3 linked regions of the Homo sapiens genome follow. The protein of the gene in region 2 purifies or fractionates together with the protein of the main gene of each other region. This does not show direct contact. Each region holds a gene or a part of one and is shown on either strand. Other genes may lie near its edges. The genes, in order: EHD2, ZSCAN29 and ABAT.

The links.
Region 1: the proteins of ZSCAN29 (region 2) and EHD2 purify together in Homo sapiens (affinity purification with mass spectrometry; 2 studies listed by BioGRID and IntAct, with this or other methods). This does not show direct contact.
Region 3: the proteins of ZSCAN29 (region 2) and ABAT purify together in Homo sapiens (affinity purification with mass spectrometry; 2 studies listed by BioGRID and IntAct, with this or other methods). This does not show direct contact.

What each region holds. Positions count from the first base shown.
Region 1 is NC_000019.10:47,714,551-47,726,464, forward strand, and holds part of EHD2 (EH domain-containing protein 2), read left to right. Parts: intron 1-2,007; 5' UTR 2,008-2,062; coding exon 2,063-2,466; intron 2,467-3,958; coding exon 3,959-4,056; intron 4,057-11,261; coding exon 11,262-11,674; intron 11,675-11,914. UniProt on the Homo sapiens protein: ATP- and membrane-binding protein that controls membrane reorganization/tubulation upon ATP hydrolysis. Plays a role in membrane trafficking between the plasma membrane and endosomes. Important for the internalization of GLUT4.
Region 2 is NC_000015.10:43,357,675-43,361,043, reverse strand, and holds the end of ZSCAN29 (zinc finger and SCAN domain-containing protein 29), read left to right. Parts: 3' UTR 1-2,869; downstream 2,870-3,369. UniProt on the Homo sapiens protein: May be involved in transcriptional regulation.
Region 3 is NC_000016.10:8,675,564-8,687,477, forward strand, and holds part of ABAT (4-aminobutyrate aminotransferase, mitochondrial isoform 1 precursor), read left to right. Parts: intron 1-7,695; exon of another isoform or gene 7,696-7,988; intron 7,989-11,914. UniProt on the Homo sapiens protein: Catalyzes the conversion of gamma-aminobutyrate and L-beta-aminoisobutyrate to succinate semialdehyde and methylmalonate semialdehyde, respectively. Can also convert delta-aminovalerate and beta-alanine.

The sequences.
Region 1 (11,914 bases), on a different chromosome or scaffold from region 2:
GGTGCTGGAGGTGCTCATTGCTCCTGGGTTGGTCATGGCTAACCTCCCTAACTCAGATCTTTAGACCTATAATAGGATTGCAACCTCTGAGGTCAGGCTGCCTGTGTTTGAGTCCCAGCTTGAGCATTTTCCAGCTAAGTGATCTTGGGTAATTTATTGCTGTCTTCCTGAGCCTCCTTTGCCTTGTTAAAAAAGCAGAGATGAGCCGGCATGGTGGCACACACCTGTAATCCCAACAATTTGGGAGGCTGAGGTGGGTGGATCACCTGAGCTCAGGAGTTCGAGACCACCCAGGGCAACATGGTGAAACCCATCTCTACTAAAAATACAAAAAAAAATTAACTGGGTGTGGTGGTGCATGCCTCTAGTCCCAACTACTTGGGAGGCTGAGGCAGGAGAATCCCTTGAGCCCCAGAGGTGAAGGCTGCAGTGAGCTGAGATTGTATCACTGCACTCCAGCTTGGGCTACAGAGTGAGACTCCATCTCCAAATAAATAAATAAATAAATAAATAAATAAATAAATAAATAAAAAGAAAGAAAAGCAAAGCAAAGCAGGGATGATAATAGACCTACTTTACAGGGTTATAAATGTTAAGTGAGTTAGTACAGTACCTGGCATGCAGTGATCATAAATGTTGCATTATTTTTCTTGTTAACACCCAACAGCCCTCATGACCTGGGTGCACCCAGGCAACCTTCTCAGCTCCATTTCTCACCCCTCCTCTTTGTGCCCCTGTGTCTGGCCACCTACCCAGATGTTTCATGGCTCCCAGTACACCAGGACCTTTCACATCCCCAGACCTTTGCACGCACCGTCCTCTCTGCCTAAATCCCCTTGTCTTGCCTGCTCTTCATGGAGCAGCTCAAAAGTCAACCCTGCCCTGAGTCTTACTGGTGCTGTGGTCTGTTTCTCATGCCCTCCTCTGGATGTCTGGCATGTGTCTGGGTCCTTACTGGGGGCCCTGGGTGGGTAGGGGATGATCTCTGGCTCATTTCTGGGTCCACAGTGCCTGAAGCATGGAGTGAGTGATTTCAGTGAAAAGGTGTCAAATGATGGAAGGGAGAAGGGAGGAAGAAATGAATGAAGCGATTAAGGAATCCGTTTCTTCCAGGCAGCTTCTGCATCCTTCGCCTTGTCCATCTCTTGGTCTTCCACTACCACCATCAATCCCCCTTCTTCAACCATGTCACCATTAATCTTTCTCCTCCTTCAGCTGGTTCGCTACGATCTCCCTATTTTTTTTGAAATGGAGTGTCGCTCTGTCAAGTGCAGTGGCGGGATCTCGGCTCACTGCAACCTCTGCCTCCTGGGTTCAAGTGATTCTCCTGTCTCAGCCTCCCAAGTAGCTGGGACTACAGGTGGCCACCACCAGGCCTGGCTAATTTTTTGTATGTTTAGTAGAGACAGGATTGCACCATATTGGTCAGGCTGGTCTCAAACTCCTGACCTCAGGTGGTCCACCTGCCTCAGCCTCCCGAAGTGCTGGGATTACAGGCATGAGCCACTGTGCCTGGCCTTTTTTTTTTTTTTTTTTTTTGAGATGGGGTCTTACTCTGTAGCCCAGGCTGGAGTGCAGCGGCATGATCATAGCTCACTGCAGCCTGCAGCCTTGAACTCCTGAGCTCAAGCAATCCTCCTGCCTCAGCCTCCCAAAGTGCTAGGACTACAGGCATGCACCACCATGCCCAGCTAATTATTTTTTTTGTAGAGATGGGGGTCTCACTATTTTACCCAGGCTGGTCTTCAACTACTGACCTCAAGCAATCCTCCTACCTCAGCCTCCCAAAATACTAGGATTACAGGTGTGAGCCATCGCGCCTGGCCCAATTCCATTCTTCCTCCTGCCACCTGCCATCCATGCTCTGTGACCACATATTTGTGACCACAAATATCTGTGCTCCTCCTCCTCCTCCACCCATCCTGTCACCCAGACAGTCTACACTCAGACCCCTTTCTTCCTCCTTGGCTGGGCCGCCTATGCTCATGCCCTCTCCCCCTCCCACAGGCAGCTCTCCATCTGCACGTCTCTCCGTGAACCCCGTGAGCGGTGTGCAGCCACCATGTTCAGCTGGCTGAAGCGGGGCGGGGCACGGGGCCAGCAGCCCGAGGCCATCCGCACGGTGACCTCGGCCCTCAAGGAGCTGTACCGCACGAAGCTGCTGCCGCTGGAGGAGCACTACCGCTTTGGGGCCTTCCACTCGCCGGCCCTGGAGGACGCAGACTTCGACGGCAAGCCCATGGTGCTGGTGGCCGGCCAGTACAGCACGGGCAAGACCAGCTTCATCCAGTACCTGCTGGAGCAGGAGGTGCCCGGCTCCCGCGTGGGGCCTGAGCCCACCACCGACTGCTTTGTGGCCGTCATGCACGGGGACACTGAGGGCACCGTGCCCGGCAACGCCCTCGTCGTGGACCCGGACAAGCCCTTCCGCAAACTCAACCCTTTCGGAAACACCTTCCTCAACAGGTGTGCCAGCCGCGAGCCCAGGGCGCATCTTTCTTTTTCTTTTTGTTAAGACAGAGTTTCCGCTCTTTTCGCCCAGGCTGGAGTGCAGTGGTGCGATCTCAGCTCATGGCAACCTCCACCTCCTGGGTTCAAGCAATTCTCCTGCCTCAGCCACCTGAGTAGCTGGGATTACAGACACCCACCACCACGCCAAGCGAGTTTTTGTATTATTAGGTACAGTTGGGGTTTCACCATGTTGGCCTGGCTGGTCTTGAACTCCTGGCCTCAAGTGATCCACCTGCCTCAGCCTCCCAAAGTGTTGGGATTACACGAGTGAGCCACTGCGCCCGGCCCTGGGGGCACGTCTTTCTGTCCCAGGGGTGCATCTTGCTGTCCCCCTTCTCTGTCCCCTCCCTGACTGTGTTTCCCTCCTTCTCAGCCCCAATTCCCTTCTCTCTACCCAGTTCTTCCCATGCCTGTCTCTGCTCTCTTATCCAGGGGAGCACCTAGGCTAGTGAAGTCAGTATGCCTGGTTCAAATCCCGGCCAGCTGGGTGGCCTCAGGCAAATGACTTGACCTCTCTGCCCTTCTTGTAGCCTCATCTGCAAAAATGTGGATCAATCACCTTGGGCCAGGCCCGGTGGCTCACACCTGTAATCCCAGCGCTTTGGGAGGCCAAGGCAGGTAGATCACTTGAGGCCAGGAGTTGGAGACCAGCCTGGCCAACATGGTGAAACCCCGTCTCTACCAAAAACACAAAAAATTAGCTGGGTGTGGTGGTTCGTGCCTGTAATCCCAGCTACTCGGGAGGCTGAGGCAGAAGAATTGCTTAAACCTGGGAGGCGGAGGTTGCAGTAAGCCGAGACCGTGCCACTGCATTCCAGCCTGGGCAACAGAGCGAGACTCTGTCTAAAAAAAAAAAAAAAAAAAAAGGGATCAGGATCACCATGGTCTCTATGCCATGGTTGCTGTGAGGACTTGGAATAGCACCTGGTGGCCGGGCGCAGTGTCTCACGCCTGTAATCCCAGCACTTTGGGAGGCTGAGGCGGGCAGATCACTTGAGGCCAGAAGTTTGAGACCAGCCTGGCCAACATGGTGAAACCCCGTCTCTACTAAAAATACAAAAATTAGCTGGGTGAGGTGGTGCCCACCTGTAATCCCAGCTACTCGGGAGGCTTAGGCAGGAGAATCACTTGAACTCGGGAGGCGGAGGTTGCAGTGAGCTGAGATAGTGCCATTGCACTCCAGCCTGGGCGACAACAGCAAAACTCTGTCTCAAAAAAAAAAAAAAAAAAAAGAACAGTACCTGGCACAAATTAAGTGCTCACTGAACATGAGCTGTGGCTGGTTATAACTCTGAGATGGTCCTGGTTGCCCTTTTTCTGTCCGGTGTCTTTCTTCGCCCATAAAGGATGCTTTGCCATGCGGTCCCGAGTCCCTCTTCATGTTTTCTTCGTGTTTTCCCTCCTTCTGTCCTTCCCTGTTGACCCCTGACCCTCCCTCTGCCCCCAGGTTCATGTGTGCCCAGCTCCCTAATCAGGTCCTGGAGAGCATCAGCATCATCGACACCCCGGGTATCCTGTCGGGTGCCAAGCAGAGAGTGAGCCGCGGTGAGTGGGGCCAGACCCTGGGGTCTGAGGGAGGAGGGGCTGGGGCCTGGACTCCTGGGTCTGAGGGAGGAGGGACTGGGCCCGGACTCCTGGGTCTGAGGGAGGAGGGGCTGGGGTCTGGACTCCTGGGTCTGAGGGAGGAGGGGCTGGGGTCTGGACTCCTGGATCTGAGGGAGGAGGGGCTGGGCCCAGACTCCTGGGTCTGAGGGAGGAGGGGCTGGGGGCCTGGACTCCTGGGTCTGAGGGAGGAGGGACTGGGGTCTGGACTCCTGGGTCTGAGGGAGGAGGAGCTGGGGCCTGGACTCCTGGGTCTGAGGGAGAGGGGCTGGGCCTGGACTCCTGGGTCTGAGGTAGGAGGGCCTGGGGTCTGGACTCCTGGGTCTAGAGGAGGAGGGGCGGTGTCTCCGCTGGGACTTGGGCCTGTGTCCTCTGGCCCTGGCTGGCGGGGCAGCCGCAGGGAGCTAGTGGAAGCTGTGACTGCTCCATGCTGGCTCGCATTGATGGGTGGGGGAGGTGTGTGGGTGACCACGTGGTGGGAGCGGGCAGGAGCCGCACGTCTGGGCAGGCAGGAAGGATGGGAAGGGAGAGATGAAGAGGGACAGGGATTCCGAGGCAGTGAGACAGCGACGCAGGGAGACACAAGGCCTGGAGATGAGGCAGAGCCTGGGCAGGGGAGGCAGAGCCCGGGCAGGGGAGGCTGGGCCCTGCGAGCTCCTGGCTCTGCGTCTGGGCCACAGATGGGGCCGAGAAGGGGATGGGAAGGGAATCTGGGTGGGGGCCAAGGCCAGGCCTGGAATTTATAAACAGCTGTGCAAGGAGAGTGGCGGGGGGTGGATTCCAGCCGGGGCCTCCGGGCGTGCTGAGCCCTCACCACCCCTGCCCAGCCCAGCTCAGCATCTGTGGTCCCCCAGCCCCACAGATCTGTGTCCCCCACCCCCCATGGCCTTGGAGGCCCAGAACTGGGGCAAAGGAGGCTGCTATGTGGGGCAGAGAGGATGGGAGGCCCTGGCGAGAAGGCTGGGCCTGGGGTGGGGTGGGGACGCTGGGGGTGACCATGTCTCTGGCTGCCGTCCAGAGGCCCCACGGGAGAAAGGCAGGAGGCAGCTGCAGAAACGATTGGGAGGACACGCTGCCAGCTGAGGGGGAGGAATTCCTGGGGCTCCCACCCCAGGGCCTGGACCTGGGACAGCGGGAGGGAGAGGCTCTCTCAGCCAGGGCAGGGGTGCCGGCAGGGGGGTTCAAAGGCCATGGGTGGTGGGGGAGTGGGGAACGGGGTCTCCCTCCCTGGCCTTGAGGATAGAGGAAGAGGAGGAGAGAGTGTCCAGCTGTTGGTGTGTATATGTGTGTGTGTGTGTGTGTGTGTGACTTTGTGTATATCTTGGGAAAGTGTGTCATTATGAGTGTACTCCTGGGTGTGGTGGTTCCACGCATTTGTGTATAGCAGTGGACGTGCCTCATTGTGGCCATGGCTCTGAGGTTGTATGACTTTGAATTGTGTACATGCCTCTGTGTGTGTGTGTGTGTGTGCGCATGTGCCTATAATTGTGGCTGGAAGACTTTGTTTTGTTTGTTTTTGAGACAGAGTCTCACTCTGTCGCCCAGGCTGGAGTGGAGTGGCGCGATCTCGGCTCACTGCAACCTTTGCCTCCCGAGTTCAAGTGGCTCTGCTGCCTCAGCCTCCTGAGTAGCCAGGACTACAGGCGCCCGCCGCACCCATGTCCGGCTAATTTTTGTATTTTTTTTTAGTAGAGACGGGATTTCACCATGTTGGCCAGGCTGGTCTCGAACTCCTGACCTCAGGTGATCCTCCTGCCTTGGCCTCCCAAAGTGCTGGGATTACAGGTGTGAGCCACCATGCCCGGCCTGCTGGATGACTTTGTGTGACTCTGAAGGGCTGTGTAGGGCTATGAGAGACTTTGTGGGATAGTGTGCAACTGATTCTGTCCCTATATACTGTTATATTGTGACGTGTGTGTGTGAGAGAGACAGACATAAAGGGCAACTTTTGTCTATGTGTCTATGTGGATTTAGTGTGTATCATTGTAGGTGTGAGTCTGACATTGTGTGCCTGTGTGTGAGATGGTCTAGGCATATATGTGTATCTGGGCTGTGGGCTGTGTGTGACTTTGTGTGGCTGCATGGGGCGGTCAGGGCTGCGGGGATTTTGTGGGACTGTGTGTGACTACCTGTGATTGTATCTCCGGATACAGTTGTGTGCTTCTGTGTGGTGTTGTGTATGTGAGAATGTGTGTGTGTGCAGGAGTGCATCTTTTGTGTAACTGTGTGTGATTACGTCTGTGTGTGTGCCTTTGGATTTGGGAGGGCATGGGAGGTTATGTGTGTGCGACTGTGTCTGTGTGGGTGTGCATGCATGTGTGCCTCTGTACCTGTGTGTTCGTGCAGGTCTCTGTGTCTATGCCGTGTGTGCATCTCACATTATCTTTGTGATTGTGTGACCACAAACATCTGTGTAGGTCCCAGATTGTGAACACGGGTATGTCTGGGAGCCTGCATCTTGTAGTAATTGGCTATGTTTGTGTCTGGATGTGCTACTGGGGGTGTGTGTGTGTGTGTGTGTGTGTGTGTGTGTATGCGAGCTCATGTGTGTGGCTGCCTCTGCATGTAAGATGTGTGAACACACGCATGTGTGATTGTAGCATAGTAAAGCCCTCAAATCTGGGCTCTGCTACTTTTATTTATTTATGTTATGCTACTTTTTTTTTTTTGAGATGGAGTCTTACTCTGTCTTCCAGGCTGGAGTGCAGTGGTGCGACCTCGGCTCGCTGCAACCTCCGCCTCCTGGGTTCAAGCAATTCTCTGCCTCAGCCTCCGGAGTAGCTGGGATTACAGGCGCCTGCCACCATGCCCGGCTAATTTTTTTGTATTTTTAGTAGAGACGGGGTTTCGCCGTCTTAGCCAGGCAGGTCTTGAACTCCTGACCTCGTGATCCACCCACCTCGGCCTCCCAAAGTGTTGGGATTACAGGCATGAGCCACCGCCCAGCCTATTTTCTGCTGCTTTTAAACTGTGGGACCTTAGGCAAGCCACTTAACCTCTCTTTGCCTCAGTTTTCTTACCTGCAAAATGGGAATAATGGGCTGGGCGCAGTGGTTCACGCCTGTAATCCCAGCAGTTTGAGAGGCCAAGGTGGGCAGATTACCTGAGGTCAGGAGTTCGAGACCAGCCTGGGCAACATGGTGAAACCCTGTCTATACTAAAAATACAAAAATTAGCTGGGTGTGGTGGTGCTTGCCTGTAATCCCACCTACTCGGGAGGCTGAGGCAGAAGAATTGCTTGAACCCAGGAGGTGGAGGTTGCAGTGAGCCGAGCTCATGACACTGCACTCCAGCCTGGGCGATAGAGTGAGACTTGGTCTCAAAAATAAACAAACAGAAAAACAAAACACACACACACACACACACACACACACACACACACACACACACACACTGGGAATAATAATACTAGCGGCCTCATAGTTGTCCTAAAGGTTAAATTAGTTAAAACATACAAAGCACTTAGAAGGTGCACACTTGTGTGTGCACACAGTAGGCGCTATGGAAGTGCCAACAATGCCTGTTTTCGCTGGGTGAGTGCCGTTGTGGGCCCAAGGTTCCTTTTTGCCACGTCTCCCATCCCACACTGACTCAACCTCTCTCCCTTCTTCCCTCCCCGCCCCATGAGACACACTTTCCGAATCTGGGCCAGTATGTGTGTTTGTGGAGACACCGGGAGGGAGGGGGGGCTCCAGTTGCTGTCCCTCCAGTGACTTGGCCCTTCCTCCCCCAAAACAACGGCCCCCAACCCCATCCCGGTCCCTGCGTTGCCCGCAAGGAGGCTGCTTCCTCTCAGGCAGGATGGGTGCAAGCACCAGCTCCCCGGAGGAGCATAGGGGCCCATGGGACTCCTCTTCTGTCGCCTCTTACCTGTGTGTCTTGAGTAAGTCCCCTAACTTCTCTCTCTTTTTTTTTTTTTGAGACGGAGTTTCGCTCTTGTTGCCCAGGCTGGAGTGCAGTGGCAGGACCTTGGCTCACTGCAACCTCCGCCTCCTGGGTTCAAGTGATTCTCCTGCCTCAGCCTCCCGAATAGCTGGGATTACAGGTGCCCACCACCACACCCAGCTAATTTTTTTGTATTTTTAGTGGAGACGGGGTTTCACTATGTTGGTCAGGCTGGTCTCGAACTCCTGACCTCAGGTGATCCACCCGCCTCAGCCTCCCAAAGTGCTGGGATTGCAGGCGTGAGCCACCACGCCTAGCTAGTCCCCTAACTTCTCTGTGCCTCAGTTTCCTCATCTGGAAAATGGGGTCAGAACAGTGCCCACCTCCTGGGGTTGTTGTGAAGAGTCACTGAGTGAGCTCTAGCTGGAGGGCATGAAGTCAGTAAATCAGGGCTAGCTCCTTGTTCTGCCAGTTAACTCTTCGTCCTCCGGGTTCCCACTCTGCCTTCCCTCCTCCTGGAAGTCCTCCTTGACCCCCAGGCTGGGGGTTGGGTCAGGCACTGGCCCTGGGCTCCCACAGCTCCCTGGATCCCCCTGCCCACCCTGGGCTGACCACTCAGGGGCCAGGTCTGTGTCCCCAGTGGGCTGAGAGATGTAAGGACAAAGCTGAAACTGCCTCAGCCTCCACACACACAGCAGGGACCACAGAGGGTGCTTCCCAGTGGGTGACATCACCATGACTTGCTGAGTGCTTACCGTACATCCAGCACTGTTTTTAAAAAAACAGTTTCATTGAGGATTAACGTACACGCCATAAAAACTCAACCATTATGGCCGGGCTCAGTGGCTCATGCCTGTAATCTCAGCACTTTGGGAGGCTGAGGTGGGCGGATAATGAGGTCAAGAGATGGAGACCATCCTGGCCAACATGGTGAAAACCCATCTCTACTAAAAATACAGAAATTAGCTGGGTGTGGTGGCACCTGTAATCCCAGCTACTCGGGAGGCTGAGGCAGGAGAATTGCTTGAACTCGAGAGGCAGAGGTTGCAGTGACCTGAGATCGCGCCACTGCACTCCAACCTGGGCGACAGCGAGACTCCGTCTGAAAAAAAAAAAAAAAAAAAAGCTCAACCATTTTTTTTTTTAAAGAGACAAGGTCTTGCTCTGTCTGCAGGCTGGAGTGCAATGACGCAATCATGGCTCACTGCAGCCTCCAACTGCTGGGCTCAAGTGATCCTCTTGCTTCCTCCTCCTGAGTAGCTGAGACTACAGATGCATGCCAACATGTGTGGATAATTTTTTATTTTATTTTTTTCTGTAGAGACAGGGTCTTGTCATCTTGCCCAGGCTGGTCTCAAACTCCCAGGCTCAAGCGATCCTCCTGCCTCTACCTCCCAAAGTGCTGGGATTACAGGTGTGAGCCACTCTGTCTGGCCACTTCCATCATTTTTAAATGTACAGTTCAATGCCAGGCATTATTTTAAGCTCTTTATATATATTAGCTCATTTATATTCTTTTAATCTTCACAACAGTCTTTTTTTTTTTTTGAGACAGAGTCTCACTCTGTCGCCCAGACTGGAGTGCAGTGATGCTATCTCGGCTCACTGCAACCTCTGCCTCCCAGGCTCAAGCGATTCTCGTGCCTCAGCCTTCTGAATATGTGGGACCATAGGCATGAGCCACCAACACCGGGCTAATTTTTTTGTATTTTTAGGGCTAGGCTGGTCTTGAACTCCTGGCCTCAATTGATCTGCCCACTTCAGCCTCCCAAAGTGCTGGGATTACAGGTTTGAGCCATCACACCTGGCTTCACAACAGTCCTATGATTTGCATTTTACAGAAAAGAAAACACAAGTTCAGAGAGGTTAAGCTACTTGCCTAAGGTCACACAGTGGATGGGGGCAGAGGAGGGACTCAACTCCAGGTCTTCCAGACAGCTAAGTCAGGGGGTCTCAATCGCTTCTCTCTGCTCTCCTCAGCATTGCTTGTTGGTGAATAAATGAGTGAAGAAGCAAAGGTGAGAATGAGTGGATGAAGGAGTGAATGAGGAAATGAATGGTGAAAGGAATGAATGAATGAGCATGGGAACCCATGGCTGGGATGGGTGCTTCATAAGAGCAAGAATCTTGTCTGTGTGTTCTCTGCGGTATCCCAGGCTCCCAGGACAGGGCTTGGCACACATGAGACTCTCAGTAAGTATTGCTAAATAAATGCAAAATATTTAACTTCTCAGCCTGGCCAACATGGTGAAACCCCGTCTCTACTAAAAATACAGAAATTAGCCAGGGTGGTGGTGCATGCCTGTAATCCCAGCTACTCGGGAGGCTGAGGCAGGAGAATTGCTTGAACCTGGGAGGTGGAGGTGGAGGTTGCAGTGAGCCACATTCATGCCACTGCACTCCAGCCTGGGCGACAGAGTGAGACTCTGTCTCAAAAAAAAAAAAAAAAAAAAAAAAAAAAAAAAAAAAAATTATCATCTGCTATGGCAAGAGCACAGCTATCCAGCATGAACTCTAGTTGCTGGATCGTGGGGAGATACAACAGGTCCTGGGGAGGAGCTGGGGTGATAGAGGCATGTGGCAGGCTTGGGGGTTCCATAGAAGCACAGGGGGATCTCTTAGCAAACATGTCAGTATTTTTAACAACCTATATGTACATACCGACGCACACCTGTAATAACTGCTTAATGAATGAGCAAATGAAAAAATGGAGGCCGTGAGGCTGGGCGCGGTGGCCCACGCCTGTAATCCCAACATTTTGGAGGCTGAGGCAGGAGGATCAGTTGAGCTCAGGAGTTTGAGACTAGCCCGGCAGCCCGGGTAACATAGTGAGATCCCATCTCTACTCAAAAAAAAAAAAAAAAAAAAAAATTAGCCAGGTGTGGTGATGCGCGCCTGCAGTCCCAGCTACTAGGGAGGCTGAGGTGGGAGGATCACCTGAGCTCCGGGAAGCAGAGGTTGCAGGGAGGCGTGATCCCGCCATTGTGCTCGAGCAAAGGAAAAGGGGGATGATTGCCCCCTGTAGCCAGATGGCTTGAGGGGCTGGGGCCAGAGCGAGGGGGGAAATTCTGGGCACTGGAGAGCCAGAGCAGTAGTGCCCACTGAGGGCCTTGGCTATTTTGCCCAGACAGGATTTGGACAGCCAACAACGTGAACATCTTTACAGTCCAATATGCAAGAGAATGGGATACTACTGAGAATGGCTGGAGGGTGGGGGTCTGATTTCTGCCCCTTGCGCCCCTGTCTCTCCACTCCCACTCCAGGCTACGACTTCCCGGCCGTGCTGCGCTGGTTCGCGGAGCGCGTGGACCTCATCATCCTGCTCTTTGATGCGCACAAGCTGGAGATCTCGGACGAGTTCTCAGAGGCCATCGGCGCGTTGCGGGGCCATGAGGACAAGATCCGCGTGGTGCTCAACAAGGCCGACATGGTGGAGACGCAGCAGCTGATGCGCGTCTACGGCGCGCTCATGTGGGCGCTGGGCAAGGTGGTGGGCACGCCCGAGGTGCTGCGCGTCTACATCGGCTCCTTCTGGTCCCAGCCCCTCCTCGTGCCCGACAACCGGCGCCTCTTCGAGCTGGAGGAGCAGGACCTCTTCCGCGACATCCAGGGCCTGCCCCGGCACGCAGCCTTGCGCAAGCTCAACGACCTGGTGAAGAGGGCCCGGCTGGTGCGAGTGAGTAGTCCTGAGGGCTGGGCGCGCATTCTTGGAGGAGGTTTCCTCGGTCCTCTCCTACCAGTGCTGTGAGTCCCTGACTTATCAGGGCCCAGGTTAGTTAGTTCTCTTGAAGTTGGGTCATTCTGGCACAGAGTGAAGCCGGGAGGAAGAACTGTATGGAGAGACTCATTCCTCTGCCTTTGGATTTCTGTGTCAACTCCGTGTCACCCTGGCTTCTCTGTCCTGGTATTTCTATTT
Region 2 (3,369 bases):
TCAATAAATGTATTGTTTAGAAAGTCTTCCAATAGTGAGATTCATCTACTATTCTGTGTCCAGTTAGCTTAGGAAATTCACTTTAGGATTTATGCCACTGTTTGTTCCTTGTTTTTCCTGATCTAGACTCAAATCCCCAAGGCAGTCTAAAGAATGAAAGGAAGATTTCAGTCCCTCTCTTTGCCTGCATCTGAATTGATGGATAACATCTTTTCCCTCTCAGTGCCTATGGTGTTCCCTTAATATAAGCACAGAGGACAAGGTAATAGATCCTATGAATTTGATAAGCATCCTTCTTTACTCATTCTGTCATTCAGCTGCATTTTGACAGGAAAAACCCATTACATTTCGAGAAGAAGTTATGAGACTTTGCCCATTAGGTGGGTCTAGCTCTTTTTTTTTTTTTTGGAGACGGAGTTTTGCTCTTGTTGCCCAGGCTGGAGTGCAATGGCACGATCTCAGCTCACTGCAACCTCTGCTTCCCGGGTTCAAGTGATTCTCCTGCCTCAGCCTCCCAAGTGGCTGGAATTACAAGCATGCGCCACCATGCCCAGCTAATTTTATATTTTTAGTAGAGATGGGGTTTCTCCATGTTGGGCAGGCTGGTCTCAAACTCCCGACCTCAGGTGATCTGCCTGCCTCGGCCTCCCAAAGTGCTGGGATTACAGGCATGAGCCACTGCGCCGGGCTTTTTTTTTTCGAGATGGAGTCTCACTCTGTCGTCCAGGCTGGAGTGCAGTGGCATGATCTCAGCTCACTGCAACCTCTGCCTTCTGGGTTCAAACAATTTTCCTGCCTCAGCCTCCTGAGTAGCTGGGATTACAGCCACCTGCCACCATACCAGGCTAAATTTTGCATTTTTAGTAGAGATGGGGTTTCACCATGTTGGCCAGGCTGGTTTTGAATTGACCTCATGATCTGCCTGCCTAGGTCTCCCAAAGTGCTGGGATTACAGGTGTGAGCCACTGCACCCGGCCCAGCTCTTCTTTATACAATAATGGAAATGCTAAAATGAATGACTCTTCCTGCTCACTTAAACCTGTGCTCAAAATGACATATTTGTCAGGCACCCTCTTCATTTACCTTAAAGAAGGAGAGTTTAATGTCCATCTTGGTTCTGCCCTATGAATCATCTTGTCAAGAACAGGTGTTCTTATGCAGAAACAATGAAAACCTTATACTGAAGTGTGAACCCTGGATTTCTTAGTTTCTTCTGAGTCCTAGAAGAAGGGTTGGAATAGAATAATACATTTACAGGATTTAGGTTGGTTTTCTTTCTGTCCAGTCTCATCTGAATTTCGTCTGTCTCTTGTGGTCCAGAAGTTCCACAGAGCAACGCAGCTGCATGTGGTGACAGGTAGAGCAGTTAAAGCTGCCAATAGGAACTCGTCCATATTCCACACACCTGGTATAGTGTTATGCCCTCCATGGGCACTTACCTGCAATAAGCAGAAGCCACTGCCACATTCCCGTGTATTGGGAAAATGGACTACTGTGTGCGAACAGGCCCTTTACCCTAATGGCAGGGAAGATGGATTATCTTTGGCCAGTGGAGCTGCCAATCTAGACATACACATTCAACTGAATACAATTAAAAGCAGTTCTTTAAATGCAAATATAATTACTCATCTTTATAATACAATAGTATTAACTGCCCATATGCTCATAGTATGATGAGCCCTGTATAGCACAAGGTCAACAGGTCCTCTCCTTGTCCTTACAATCTAAAGCAGATGACACTGACATGGACAAACAAGTGCACATGCATAGTTGCGGCAGTTTTAGAGAAATCTAGAAAGCTAGGTAGCAACACTATGCATAAATGTTGTGGTCCAATGCATTAGTTTGCTTTAACAAAAATCTGGGAGGTATTTTTTCTCTTTATTCAGGAAGGCTTCATGAAGCAGGAAGTGGTCAAAGGAGGGAAGGTTACTGGTTAAATTATGATAGGAAGAACTTTCCATAACTAGTTGCAAAATTGAGTGCTGGGTGGGTTGAGGAATGGGAAAAAGGGGGAGCAAGGTGTTTTGTGTAGATGGAACAAAGGGCAAAGGATAGACTGTAAGGAAGGCCAGATAAAGCTTGGAGTAGCATGAGAACTTGAGGAATAGTATGATATGGGCTGTGCAGCAGGCAGAGAGAATCACCTTAGCTGAAACATGGGTGTTAGGAGCAGACCATGAGGTGGTAGAACCATCATCTATAGTAAATCAGGTACTACGCTATAACTATTGATAAGGAAACAGCTGACTGCCACTGAAAGAATAAGCAGTTTTAGGGGACTAGCTCCTATGGGAGATAAAGGTCAGAAATCGTAGTATCTGATGAAGATATTTTGATGAGCAGGTGAGAAGAAAGATAAACATGGCCAGATGGCCAAGGACTGGGATAAGTAGCCGTTTCACATTCAATTAGAATTCTGTGGCTGGAATAAGATCAGGGAGAGCAGTAGGAAGATATAGTATTCTATAATTCATAGCTTGTTGTGTTAGAGATTAATTAGGATTCTGCTGTTGAATCTTAGTACAAAAAAATCTAATATTTATTAGGAATTAAGGGAAGATGGTACTTCTGTTATGTTGCCTAAGCAGACAGGAAGCTACAAGAAACACCAGTCTGAAGCAGTGCCTCAGGATCTCAGATGATTTAGGAAGTGTGCTGTAATGTCAAAAAAAAAAAAAAGTATTGTCTTTAGTATATCTATGTATAGTCTCGTGGGAAAAGCATTGGTTGTGGTATCAACAGATATTCTGGTTCCAGATGTCTTGTAAGTTAACCTGCCTCCATTTCCCTTTCTGTAAAGCAAAATAATGTTTACACCTAATCTGTCTCTCAGGGATACCATATTAATAAAAATCATGTCTATAAAGTGCCTGGTGTTTCTTGAAGTGTTTATGTGTGTGTGTGTATATATATACACAAATTACGATCAAGTTATGGAGGGCAGGAAAAGACCAATCTTTCTTTTTTTAACTCCTTGTGTGGGTTTACTAGAAGTATGCTTATCTGAATCTTTATATTCTAGAAAGAGGAATAAGTCAGATTGTGGTAAAAGGGAAATTAGAATGCAAATCCTTCCTTTGTACCTCTATCCATATCCACAATAAATTAGGACCCAAGATAACTGGGCATGCAGAGTCTTATTTTTTAAATTTTTATTTATTTTTTAGAGATAGGATCTCACTCTGTTGCCCAGGCTGGAGTGCAGTGGTGCCATCATAGGTCACTGCAGCTTCAAATTCCTGGGCTCAAGTGATCCCCAGCCTCCCCAATAGATGAGACTACAGGCATGAGCCACTATACTCAGCTAATTTTTTAAAGTTTTGTATTGATGAGGGGTCTACGTTGTCCAGGCTGGTCTTGAACTCC
Region 3 (11,914 bases), on a different chromosome or scaffold from region 2:
CCCACCTATTTCACATCCTCTCACCTTTCCTCACCCACCCTGGCCAAGGTAAGACTAGAGGGGGTTCAGCGAGATTTAGTAAGACTGGAGCTCTTAAAACTGGGATCTGGGGCCTAGAGGCCCTTCCAGGAGTCTTCAAACTCTGACAACAGAGATGGCCTCTGAGGCAGCAGGACCAGCAGAGACCACCCGCCACCTCTCCCCCGCTCCCTGCCCCAACACACGCACAAAGGCTGTGTTCAATGCATTCTCTCTTGCAGTCTGGGAGGACAGCTGGCCCTCTTCCAAGAGGGCCCGCATTTCCCCCCTAAAGTGTGCACCCCCGCAAGCGCCTGTGGACATTGCCTGGTGGAATTCCCTGGGCACTCAGCCAAGAGAAATGGGTGCTGCTGGGCCCATCCACTGGGGAGGAGACAGTGTTGGCTTTGCTGCTTTGATGAAGCTAGACTAAGGGACAGGATGTTGGTGACCTGGGGGTGGGGAGGGGGTGGGAAGAGCTCTTCTCTGGTGGGTCAGGTTGGGAGGCAGGAGAGAGGGAGGCAGTGAGTTGTGTCTTGCTCTTTGGAGCCTGTGTTGCGGCGTGGAGTCATAGAGAAATGTGTTTTCTCGAGGCCCAAAGAGGTTAGCCACGGGGAGAGGTAAATGGTCCAGTCTGGAGTCCTAAGACCTAAAAGGGCTTCTGCATTAAAGACGTGGCCCCTTCATTTGACAGTTAAACACACAGAGGCACAAAAGGGGAAGAGACTTGCTCAAGGTCACCCAGCCTGTGGGAGACAGCTGGCCCCAACCCCTCCAGGACCCTTAAGGTGCTAGGATCCCTGACACAAGCCCCAGTCCTCACATTTACAATGGGGACTTGGGGACTGCTGGGTCCCAAGTCCCCACTTGTCAGAGGAAGCGCCAAGGCTCTGCAAAGGTCATGAAGCCAGGAAGGGGCAGAGCTGGAACTCAATGCCATCCCCCAGCAGGCTGCCTCGTGGAATCCATTCCTGGGTGTCAGCGCATCCCTGCTTACCCCGTGCGATCTTTGTGTTGAGGCCATTGCCAAATCTAGGCTTGCCAAAATCCAAACTGACCCAGGATAGCTAATAAGATCAGTTGCAGCTAATGAGAATGAGATGCTGGAGTGGAGGCTACTGCAGGAACCTCACTTGCATAGCTGGGTTTGCTCCAAGAACTTTGGACAGGTCCTGAGGATGTCATATTCCTTCCCTCCAAGGTCCCCTCCCTCTTAGCCCCTGCCCACGCCCTCTGGCTTTGAGTTCCCTGCACATTGTCTCATCTCTGTTCAGAGGCCTGCGTCTTTTCTCCTGGGGCATTGCATGGGAAAAGAGCTGAAATTCTGGCAGATTCTCTAGGACCACCCAGCTGGGCAGCATGGTCTGAAGTAGAGGCTCTCTCTGTTTCTGCCCCCACCCAGTTCCCAGCTAAAGGATTGGTTGTTGTGCCCCAACTTTGCCAAGGCGAAGTTCAAAGCATGAGGAGGACCACGGTAGAGAGGCCGAGAGGTTGGTCCCTGGAGACCTCTTATCTGGGTCGAGAGCACAAATCTGCCACTTAGTGTCTGATCTTAACCTCTCTGTGACATATCCTTGGGGTAAAATGAGTTAATCCTCATAAAATGTTTAGCACACAGCAAAATGAGCAGAAACAATGATTACAAGTGCAAAGTCATAAAACCTCTAATCATGAAGTGGGGAGGTGCTTATGCCTTAAGGCAAAACTTGTAACCCTTGCCGTAGATAATCTGCCAGGGCCAAGGTGCCTGGGGACAAGGGGATGTCTTCCTAGAGAGACAGTGTAGTATGTGGAATGGACCACAGACCCTGAAGCCAGATGGAGTAGAGAGTTGGCCACTGGTAGTGGCTGTCTATGGAAACTTAGGCAAGTCATTCATGTCTCTGAACCTCAGTTCCTCGTCTTTGAATGAGGTTTGTTGGGGTTGGACATCAGAAAAGAGACAGGTCTAGATGAGGGGTTCTCATTTTGGGCACTGTTGACAGTTGGGTCAGAGGATTCTTTGTTGTGGGACTCCCCTGTGTATTGTAGGATATTCAGCAGCGCCTCTGGTCTCTACCCACTAGATGCCAGTGACACTCCCTACCCCATGAGTCATGTCCATCAGAAATGTCTGCAGACATTGCCAGATGTGCCCTGGGGAGCAAAATCATCCTTTTCCTTCGCTATTGAGAACTGCTGGTCTAATACATGGCCTTAAACATAGTTGATACTTAATATAAAACAGCTTCCTAGCTGAGGCGGGTGGATGGCTTGAGCCCAGGAGTTTGAGACCAGCGTGGGCAACATGGCAAAACCCCATCTCTGTAAAATACAGGAAAAAAAAAATCAGCTGGTCATGGTGGCATGCGCCTGTAGTCCTAGCAACCTGGGAGGCTGAGGTGGGGGGATTGCTTGAGCCCGGGGAGGTCGAAGCTGCAGTGAGCCATGATCACACCACTGCATTCCAGCCTGGGTGACAGAGTGAGACACTGTCTCCAAAAAAAAACAAAATAAAAACCAAAAACAGCTTCTTTCTTGCACAAGCTCCTCGTTTTGGTTTCTGTGTAATGAGGAGAAGGAGATGTGTCTAGCTGTGGAGCCTTCCAATATTAATAACAATTTTTAATTTCTCACATTTACACAAGACTTTCTTGTCTGGTTTTTGTTTTTCTCTTTAGTAGAGACAGAGTCGGGTGGTCTCTAACTCCTAGGCTTAAGCGATCCTCCCGCCTTGGCTTCCCAAAGCACTGGGGTTACAAGTGTGAGTTACAACCAAAGCGCTGGGGTTACAAGTGTGAGTTACAGGAATAAGCCACAGCACCCAACCTACACAGGACCTTATCATCTCCAAAGCACTGTTGTGTCTATGACACTGTTTCTCACTCTACAGATAAGCAAACTAAGCCTCACAAAGGTTAAAAGACTTGTCTAAGACCATCACCCGCTTCTCCACCAGGCATCAGAGAAACATCCATGCCAGAAATTGTTTGAGAAACAACTGAGTTCTGGGCCTTCTTCAGATTAGTTATCAGGGTCTTTCGAAACTTCAATGGCATGCTCTTTGGTCCAGCAATCCCACTTTGAAAAATCTCACACAGAAATGCTCACACTTGCACTGACATAACATAAAAATGTCCATGGCAGAGCTTGCAACACTGGTATGGGAAGGGATTACAGTATATGCATTCATGTGGGAGAATGAGTAGATTTTAGATGAATGAGGTGGATCCACATTCCTGACCTTGAAAGGTTCCTGAGTCATATTATTTAGTGAAAAAGATAAAGTCACAGAATCAACATAGCCAGTATGATCCTATTTTTTTTTAAATGTAAATATGCATGAACATGGATAGTTAGGGAAGTGGGGAATTAAAAGGACCTAGATAGTATGTATGTATGAGAACATATTCCTGGGGGAAGAAGAAGAAAATAAATCTCCGCCAGCTTCCCATGCATTAAAAATGAGCAAAGTGGGCTGGCCACCTTGTCTCACGTCTGCGATCCCAGCACTTTGGGAGGCTGAGGCGGCAGAATCACTTGAGCCCAGGAGTTTGAGGCTGCAGTGAGTTGTGAGTGAGCCACTGCACTCCAACCTGGGCAACAAAGGGACACTGTAAATAATTAATCATAAGATAAAAATTAAAATGAATAGAGCACAACCCACAGAGGTTGAGAGACTTGCTAACACCAGAAGTTGCCAGTGGTGAAATTCAGCTTTGAGTTTGCTGATAGTTACGGGGCCAAGAGACAGGAATCTGAGGCTCATCTCAGCAGGCCAAGCCTCCTTCCTTACTGTGGGGAAATTCCTTCTCTGAGCACCTAGAGGGATCCTGGTGTCAGACTGACCTCACCTGAATCAGGCTTCCACCCACGTGATGACCTCAGGCCAGCCACTTTAACTCTCAGTGCCTCATTTCTCTAACTTTAAAATAGCTAAAAGGCAAAGGAAAAAACATGAAAGCCAAAAAAAAAAAAAAAGGTAGAAGGAGGAGGCAATAGTAGAACCTCTCTCATTGGGCCGCTGTGAGGATTACATAAAACCATGTGTTCCGACCCCCAGTACTTAGTAGGTGCTTAATTAACACGAGCCCTGGTCTCTCCTGCCTTTTTCTCTGCTTGCCTGCTCCTTGCCAGGATGCAGAAGACAAAAGCCTCAGAAAGGACAGTGGGGGCTCCTGAGGCCCCAAGAATGCTTAGCAGGCTGAATCAGTTGTCCTCACTTCTTCACTTTGCCCTCTGATCCACCATGACCACTCTGCTGCAGGAGCTTTTAACAGAAAGCCTGGGAGAGCATTCTGAGGGGGTCTGTGCTATAGCTCTTCCTCCCTGGGGTCTAACCATCCTTGCTTTCTCTAGACACTCCACACATTAAACTGTCTTGCCCGTTGCAGGGATGGGATGGCATCATGTGGCCTCTAATTACACATCCCTTCAATAATAAGATTGACTCTCCAAGGGCAAGTTTTCCTCCTCCTTCAAAAGCTATCTCACATTGCGTCTTTTACAGGTAGTCTTCCCCGACCCTCCCCCACCTCCAGCCAGGAAAACCATTTCTCCTCCTCCCAACTCCTGTCATCCACATCCTAGACTTCCTGGGTCTGCCACATCCTATTCTTCCTGGGTCCATCACATCCTAGATTTCTTGGGTCCATCACTGTTTGCTGGATTTCTTCCCAATCCATAATTGCCTGGAAGCAGCCATCACATCCATCACATTTATTCTTGTGTCTTAAATGCATAGCACACTTCCCTATGCACACAGTAGATATTCAAGGAGCATTGACTGAATGCAGAAAAGTATTTTTTAAATTGGGGTAAAATACACATAACATGAAATTGACCATTTTCATCATTTTATTTTTATGTATTTTTTTGGGGGGCAGGGGGAATCTTGCTCTGTCACCCAGGCTGGAGTGCAGTGGTGTGATCTCGGCTTACTGCAACCTCTGCCTCCTGGGTTCAGGCAATTCTGACTCAGCCTCCCAAGTAGCTGGGATTACATGTGTGGGCCACAACCACGCCCGGCTAATTTTTTTGTATTTTTAGTAGAGACGGGGTTTCACCATGTTGGCCAGGCTGGTCTTGAACTACTGACCTCAAGTGATCCGCCTGCCTCGGCTTCCCAAAGTGCTGGGATTACTGGCATGAGCCACTGCGCCCGACCTCCATTTTTTGATTATTATCATTGGGGTCACTGTGGCAGGTGTGAAGCAATACCACATTGTGGTTTTGATTTGCATTTCCCTAATGACTGATGGCATTGAGCATCTTATGTGTTTGTTGCTTATTTGTATATTATCTTCAGAGAAATGTCTACTCAAGTTCTTTGCCCATTTTTGAATTGAGTTGTCTTTTTGTCTTTTTGTTCTTGAGCTGTAAGAGTTCTTCTTTTCTCTTTTTCTTTTTCTTTTTATTTATCTATTTTTTTTTTTGAGACAGAGTCTCACCCTGTCTGTCACCCAAGCTGGAGTGCAGTGGCATGATCATAGCTTACTGCAGCCTTGACTTCCCAAGCTCAAACAATCCTTCTGCCTCAGTCTTCCAAGTAACTGGCACAACAGGTGCCACCACACCTGGCTAATTTTTTAAAAAGCATTTTTTTGTTGTTGTTGAGATGGAGTCTCCCTATGTAGCCCAGGCTGGTTTTGAACTCCTAGGATCAAGCGATTCTCCCACCTCGGCCTCCCAAAGTGCTGGGATTACAAGTGTGAACTGCCTCGCCTGGCCCAGAGTTCTTTATATAAATAAATGTTTCTTTGTGTCACTATTTCTTCATCCACTTAAATATTTGCTCAGCTCCTGTAGGTCACACACTATCTTGTGATCCTGGGAATACCACCAGTTCCTGCCTATCAGGAACTCACAGTCTACTGCAAAGTTTCTCAGCCTCTACACTTTTTTTTTTTTTTTTGAGAGGGAGTCTTGCTCTGTTGCCCAGGCTGGAGTGCAGTGGCATGATCATGTTTACCTGGAACCTATGAATAGGACCTAATTTGGAAATAGAGACTTTGCAGAAATAGTTAGGTTGAAATGAGGTCTTTCTGCATTAGAGTGGCCCCTAATCCAATGACTGCTATCTTTTTTTTTTTTTTTTTTGAGATGGAGTCTTGCTCTGTTGCCCAGGCTGGGGTGCAGTGGTGCAATCTCAGCTCACTGCAACTTCTGCCTCCCGGGTTCAAGCGATTCTCCTGCCTCAGCATCCTGAGTAGCTGGGATTACAGGCACCCGCCACCACACTCAGCTAATTTTTGTATTTTTAGTGGAGACAGGGTTTCACCATGTTGGCCAGGCTGGTCTTGAACTTGTGACCTCAGGTGATCCACCCGCCTCGGCCTCCCAAAGTGCTGGGATTACAGGCTGAGCCACCTCTCCTGGCCCACCTCTATACTACTGACGTGGAAGCGAGGCTGTCCTGTGCCGGATGTTTAGCAGCATTCTTGGCCTCCACCCACCAGACGCTGGCAACATACCTTCCTCCACGTTGTGACAGCCAGAAATGTCTCCAGGCATTATGAAGTGTCCCCTGGGGAACAAGATTGCCCCTGGTTGAGAATCACCGGTTAGAGGCTAAGACAGCCGTGTATATCTATAATTTCAATCAGATTGCTTGTGCCTAACAGGATACACACACACACACACACACACACACACACACACACACACAGAGGAGGCATTCAGGATGTATTTGTTGGATGTTGGATGGCTGGGGGTGTAGATGGATGCATGGATGGACAGACACAACCCCTTTGTTGGTTGGCTAGATTGATGGATACATGTGTGAATGAATGGATGAATAAATGAATCCAATTTACAAATTCCACTGTGGGAAAACAGAACGCTATTCTTCCAACCAGAGTAGCCTGCCCCTTTATCTCTGTCTAGCACAGTGTTTTTCAAACTTTAGCATCAGAATCCCCTCAAGAGCTTGTTAAAACACAGATTGATGCCCCTGCCCACCAGAATTATGATTTAGTAGAATCACCGGCGGCCAGAATGCTCCCAACTCTATTTCCATGTTCTCTAGGAATCCTGGACCAGCCCCCGACCCCTGCCAACCTTGTCCTTGTCCAGAGGTCCCGTAATCTTCACTGCCAGCATCTCCCATTTAGGTGCTAACATCTATTATCTTGGATATCAGCAACTTGCCAGCACTCTGTCCCTGGGCTGCACTGAGAATTCCTTCAAAGGTGGGACCCACTGTATTCTAGTACCTTACTACTGAAAGTGTGGTCCAGCGGCCAGCAGCATTGCATCTTCTAGGAGCTAGCTAGAAATGCAGAATCTTGGGCCCCACCCAGAACTACAGAATGTGAATCTGCGTTTTAACAATATCCCCTGGGGTGATTTGTGTGCACTTTTAAGTTTGAGAAGCGTATTTTAGACAGATCTGTAAACCCCACACTCAGAGCTAAGCTAGGGATAGCTTTGCTGATAAGTTACATTGACAGCATCTGTTACCATGTAATTGGTGCCTGAGCTGAAGCATCTTTCAGGCATTACTGGCCATTTGTACCTTTGCCTGACGTTATCTCTTGAAATGTCTACACTGGCCTCGCTTTACCCGTGGGAAACCAGAAGCCCAGAGGAGCAGTGCCTTGCCCAAGGTCACACGATGACCATGAAAGCAGAGTGGAGATCACTCTCCACTCCTTAAAGGGAATGGGATCAAGAGGATTGAAATGCTGTATCCACTGAGCAGGGCGGCACATGCCTGTAGTCCCAGCTACTCGGGAGGCTGAGGCAAGAGGATTGCTTGAACCCAGGAGTTCTGGGCCGTACTGTACTATACCAGTCAGGTGTCTGCATTAGTTCGGCATCAATATGGTGACCTCCTGGGAGTGGAGGACCACCAGCTTGCCTAAGAAGGGGTGAACCAGCCCAGGTCAGAAACAGAGCAGGTCAAAACTCCTGTGCTGATCGGTAGTGGAATTATGCCTGTAAATAGCTACTGCACTCCAGCCTGGGCAACATAGTGGAACCCTGTTTCTAAAAAAAAAAAAGAGAGAGAGAGAGAGAGAAAAGAACTGAAATGCTGCTATGATACTGAAAATATGGGGTGTAGGGGGAGCATTCTGAAGCTACTTAGGTCTGTCCTCTGAAACTGGAGAAAGGGGAGATGACTTGAAAGTGATGCAAGAACAAGAACTTAAGTTGTATTCTTTTGTTCATCCAACCAGTGTTTATTGAGTACTTACTAGACTCCAGGCATGGTTGTCTGGTATCTATAGTATTGAACAAGAAAAGCCAGGCCTCCCTTTTGATGGCTTATCTGGAGTGGACAGACGTAGCCATCTGGCATTCATTCGTCAATGAGTGTGTTCATTTATTGCATGATTTCCATGTGCTGTGTACAGTAGTAGGGGTGTGTGCGTGTCTATGTGTCTGTGTGTGTGAGAGAGACAGAGAGAGAGAGAGAGATGGAGGGAGAGACAAAGACTCAGCTACTACACCAGCGCCTCTTCTAGACTAGCCATGCGGAAACAGGCCCCAAAACAAGGACCACACAGTGAGGAGAGTGCCGAAGGTGTGTGGGAGTGAATACAGGTTCAAGCTCAAAGTAAAAAGAGGTTACCACTCCCTGTTCCTGGGGATTCTAGGGAAGAAATTTCAGGAGGAAAAGGCAGAAAAGAAGAGAAAGAGACTCTGTGCAGGGAGAGCATCATGAACAGGCCCAGAGAGTTCATAGGAAGCCGTTCCAAGAAAATCGCAGGGGAAAAAGGAAGGATAGACAGCGTATGGTGGCTCGCACCTGCAATCCCAGCGCTTTGAGAGGCCGAGGTGGGTGGATCACTTGAACCCAGGAGTTCAAGACCAGCCTGGCCAACATGGCCAAACCCCGCCTCTACAAAAAATACTAAAATTAGCCGGGCATGGTGATGCATGCTTGTAGTCCCAACTACTCAGGAAGCTGAGGCAGGAAGATTACTTGAGCCCAGGAGTTTGAGACCAGCCTGGGCAACATAGCAAGACCCCTCAAGACCCCTTCTCTACAAAAAATTTTAAAAATTAGCCAGGTGTGGTAATGTGCACCTGTAGTCCCAGCTACTCAGGAGGCTGAGGCAGGAGGGTCGCTTGAGTCAAGGAGGCCGAGCCAGGCTGCACTGAGCCATAATCATGCCACTGCACTCCAGCGTGGACAACAGAGTGAGATCCTGTCTCAAAAAAAAAAAAAAAAAGGTGGAGGGTAAAATCATGAATCTCATACAGATACAAAAACACTCAATGATTTTATTAGGCTCATTCAATGAGGGAACCAGGCAGACATTAGAACCAGTTCAAAGGAAAAGTCAAATAAAGCACAAATATGTAAAGAGTAAAGGGAGGTCTAAATAGATTCAAAACAGAGGCAAACATGGTTGGACAAGGCAGAATTTGCTTGTCTATCAGTTTTCTACAACTTACAAAGGAGTCAGCAAAGTAGTTTGAAAATAATGAACAAGGCCAGGCATGGTGGTTCATGCCTGCAATCCTAGCACTTTGGGAGGCCGAGGTGGACAGATTGCTTGAGCTCAGGAGTTCGAGACCACCTTGGGCAACATGGTGAAACCCTGTCTCTACCAAAAATACAAAAAATTGGTCAAGCATGGTGGTGCGTGCCTATAGTGCCAACTACTCGGGAGGCTGAGGCACAAGAATCACTTGAGCCTGGGAAGGGGAGGTTGCAGTGAGCCAGGATCACGCCATTGCACTCCAGCTTGAGCAATGGAGACCCTGTCTCAAAATAACAATAATAATGAACAAGTGAACAAGGCTAGAATCAGATAATCCAAAAATTTGTGTTGTAAGTAGGTAGTGCATAACTCTTTTTCTATAAAAACAATGTTACGCCGGGTGTGGTGGCTCTCGCCTGTAATCCAGCACTTTGGGAGGCCGAGGCAGGCAGATTGCCTGAGCTCAGGAGTTCGCGACCAACTTGGGCAACACAGCGAAACCCTGTCTCTGCTAAAAATACAAAAAAAAAAATTAGCCTGGCGTGGCAGCCTGCGCCTGTAGTCCCAACTACTTGGGAGGCTGAGGCAGGAGAATCGCTTGAACCCGGGAGGCGGAGGTTGCAGTGAGCCAAGATTACGCCACTGCACTCCAGCCTGGGCAACAGAGCAAAACCCTGTCTCAAAACAAAAACAAAAAAACAAACAACAGCAACATCGAAAAAACAAAAAAACAAAAAACCAATGTTCAAGTGATGGAGAGGCATGGGTGGATGAGGAGTGGCAAGAGGAGGCTGTAGGAAGAGTAGATCATGTCCCGCCAGGTGACCCATGATCTTGAATTTGGACTTGACTCAGAGACCCATAGGGAACCATGGAAGAGATTAAAGCAAGGCAGTGATGTGATTTTGTTATCACTTGAGAAAGATCCTCCTGGAAGCTGAATGGAGAGTAGACAGACACCTTCTCCCACTAGCCTTTGAGCTCAGATTTCCTTAGGGAAACAGCCAATCCCAGGGGCAGATTGCTGACCTTCCTGCAAAAGGTTTTAGAACGTGGAAGCTCCTTCAGGGCAAGGTTGGCTGAACACCAGCCAAAAGAGCAAGGCACCACCCCGGCAGGACAGGGCTGTTTTGTGCACGGGAACAAAGCCTGCCTCCTCTCTCTGCCCAGAGCTGTAAATAGCACTCTGCTGGCTTCGCAGGCTGAGCGCCGGTCTGGGGACAGGCTGAAAATGCACACACCAAGGAGCATTTGTGCAAATGAATGCCTGCATGCAAATTTGCATGCCTGGCATCCTGCCCCAGCCCTAAGTGTCCAGTCCTGCAAGGGGCTGGAAGCAGGGCTCAAAAAAGAGCCACACACAGAAGAGTGTGGACATTCTGACCTGGGGACAGGTTCCAGGAGGGATTCAGAGGCAGGCTGGCAGGGTGAGTGGGAGAAAACATGCAGAGAACCCTGGACAGAGTTTTGGCTCCAGCTTTACCCATGATAATGACAATGACCCATGAGTAGTAGCCACTCACATTGGCTGTGTATTTGTGTGTAGTTGCTCACCTTGTCGCTCACAACAGCCCTATGAGGAAAGGCTGATCAGATTTCAGAGACAGGAAATGGAAACTCAGAAAGGATGACTGACTCGCCCAGGGTCTCCTACTGAAGGGAGCATTTCTAGTGAGAAACCGAGGCTTGAAGACTCTGGAGCCCTGGTGTCTAGGACTGACCCACATGGACGCCTCTGCATATGCCCACTGCTGGCTCTGACCTCAGTTTACTCCTCCATCAAAGGGTGCAATAATGTCTTTGCACCTAATGATCACAGCAGAGTTTGGGAAATGAACTACCCCTGCAAATGAGAAAGACTTGAAAAGTCATCAATGCTGAATATGAACTGATGGTATGTGGAGAAAGTCTGAAAGTGCTTTCCTTAGCCCCAGAGACAGGGTGTGGAGTGCAAGGCCAACCTTGTTTGTACTCAGGGGCTTTGGAAGTGCAGAGTGGCCTTGGATGGGTGGAGGTGAAGGCATGCTGAAGCTTGCTGAACCACTCCCGGATCATAGGTGAGCCAGGTTGGGTCTAGTCTGTTTTTTTTCCCTTGAGAGGAAGAGATGGTGGGTGCATTGTGGAGAGAGAGGGAAACAGTGACCCTGAGGTGGGGACGCACATCTGGACGGAAAGTGTTTGCCGAGAGCACTTGGCCGCCTGCCCTCCCACGGAGCAGGTGCTAGTCTTGGGTCCCGCTCTTCCGGGTTCTTCAGAAGCTGAGCTCCGGTCTGTAATCCCAGCACTTTGGGAGGCTGAGGCGGGCGAATCACGAGGTCAGGAGATGGAGACCATCCTGGTCAACACGGTGAAACCCCGTCTCTACTACAAATACAAAAAAAATTAGCTGGGTGTTGTGGCGCATGCCTGTAATCCCAGCCACACGGGAGGCTGAGGCAGGAGAATAGCTTGAACCAGGGAGTCGGAGGTTGCAATGAGCCGAG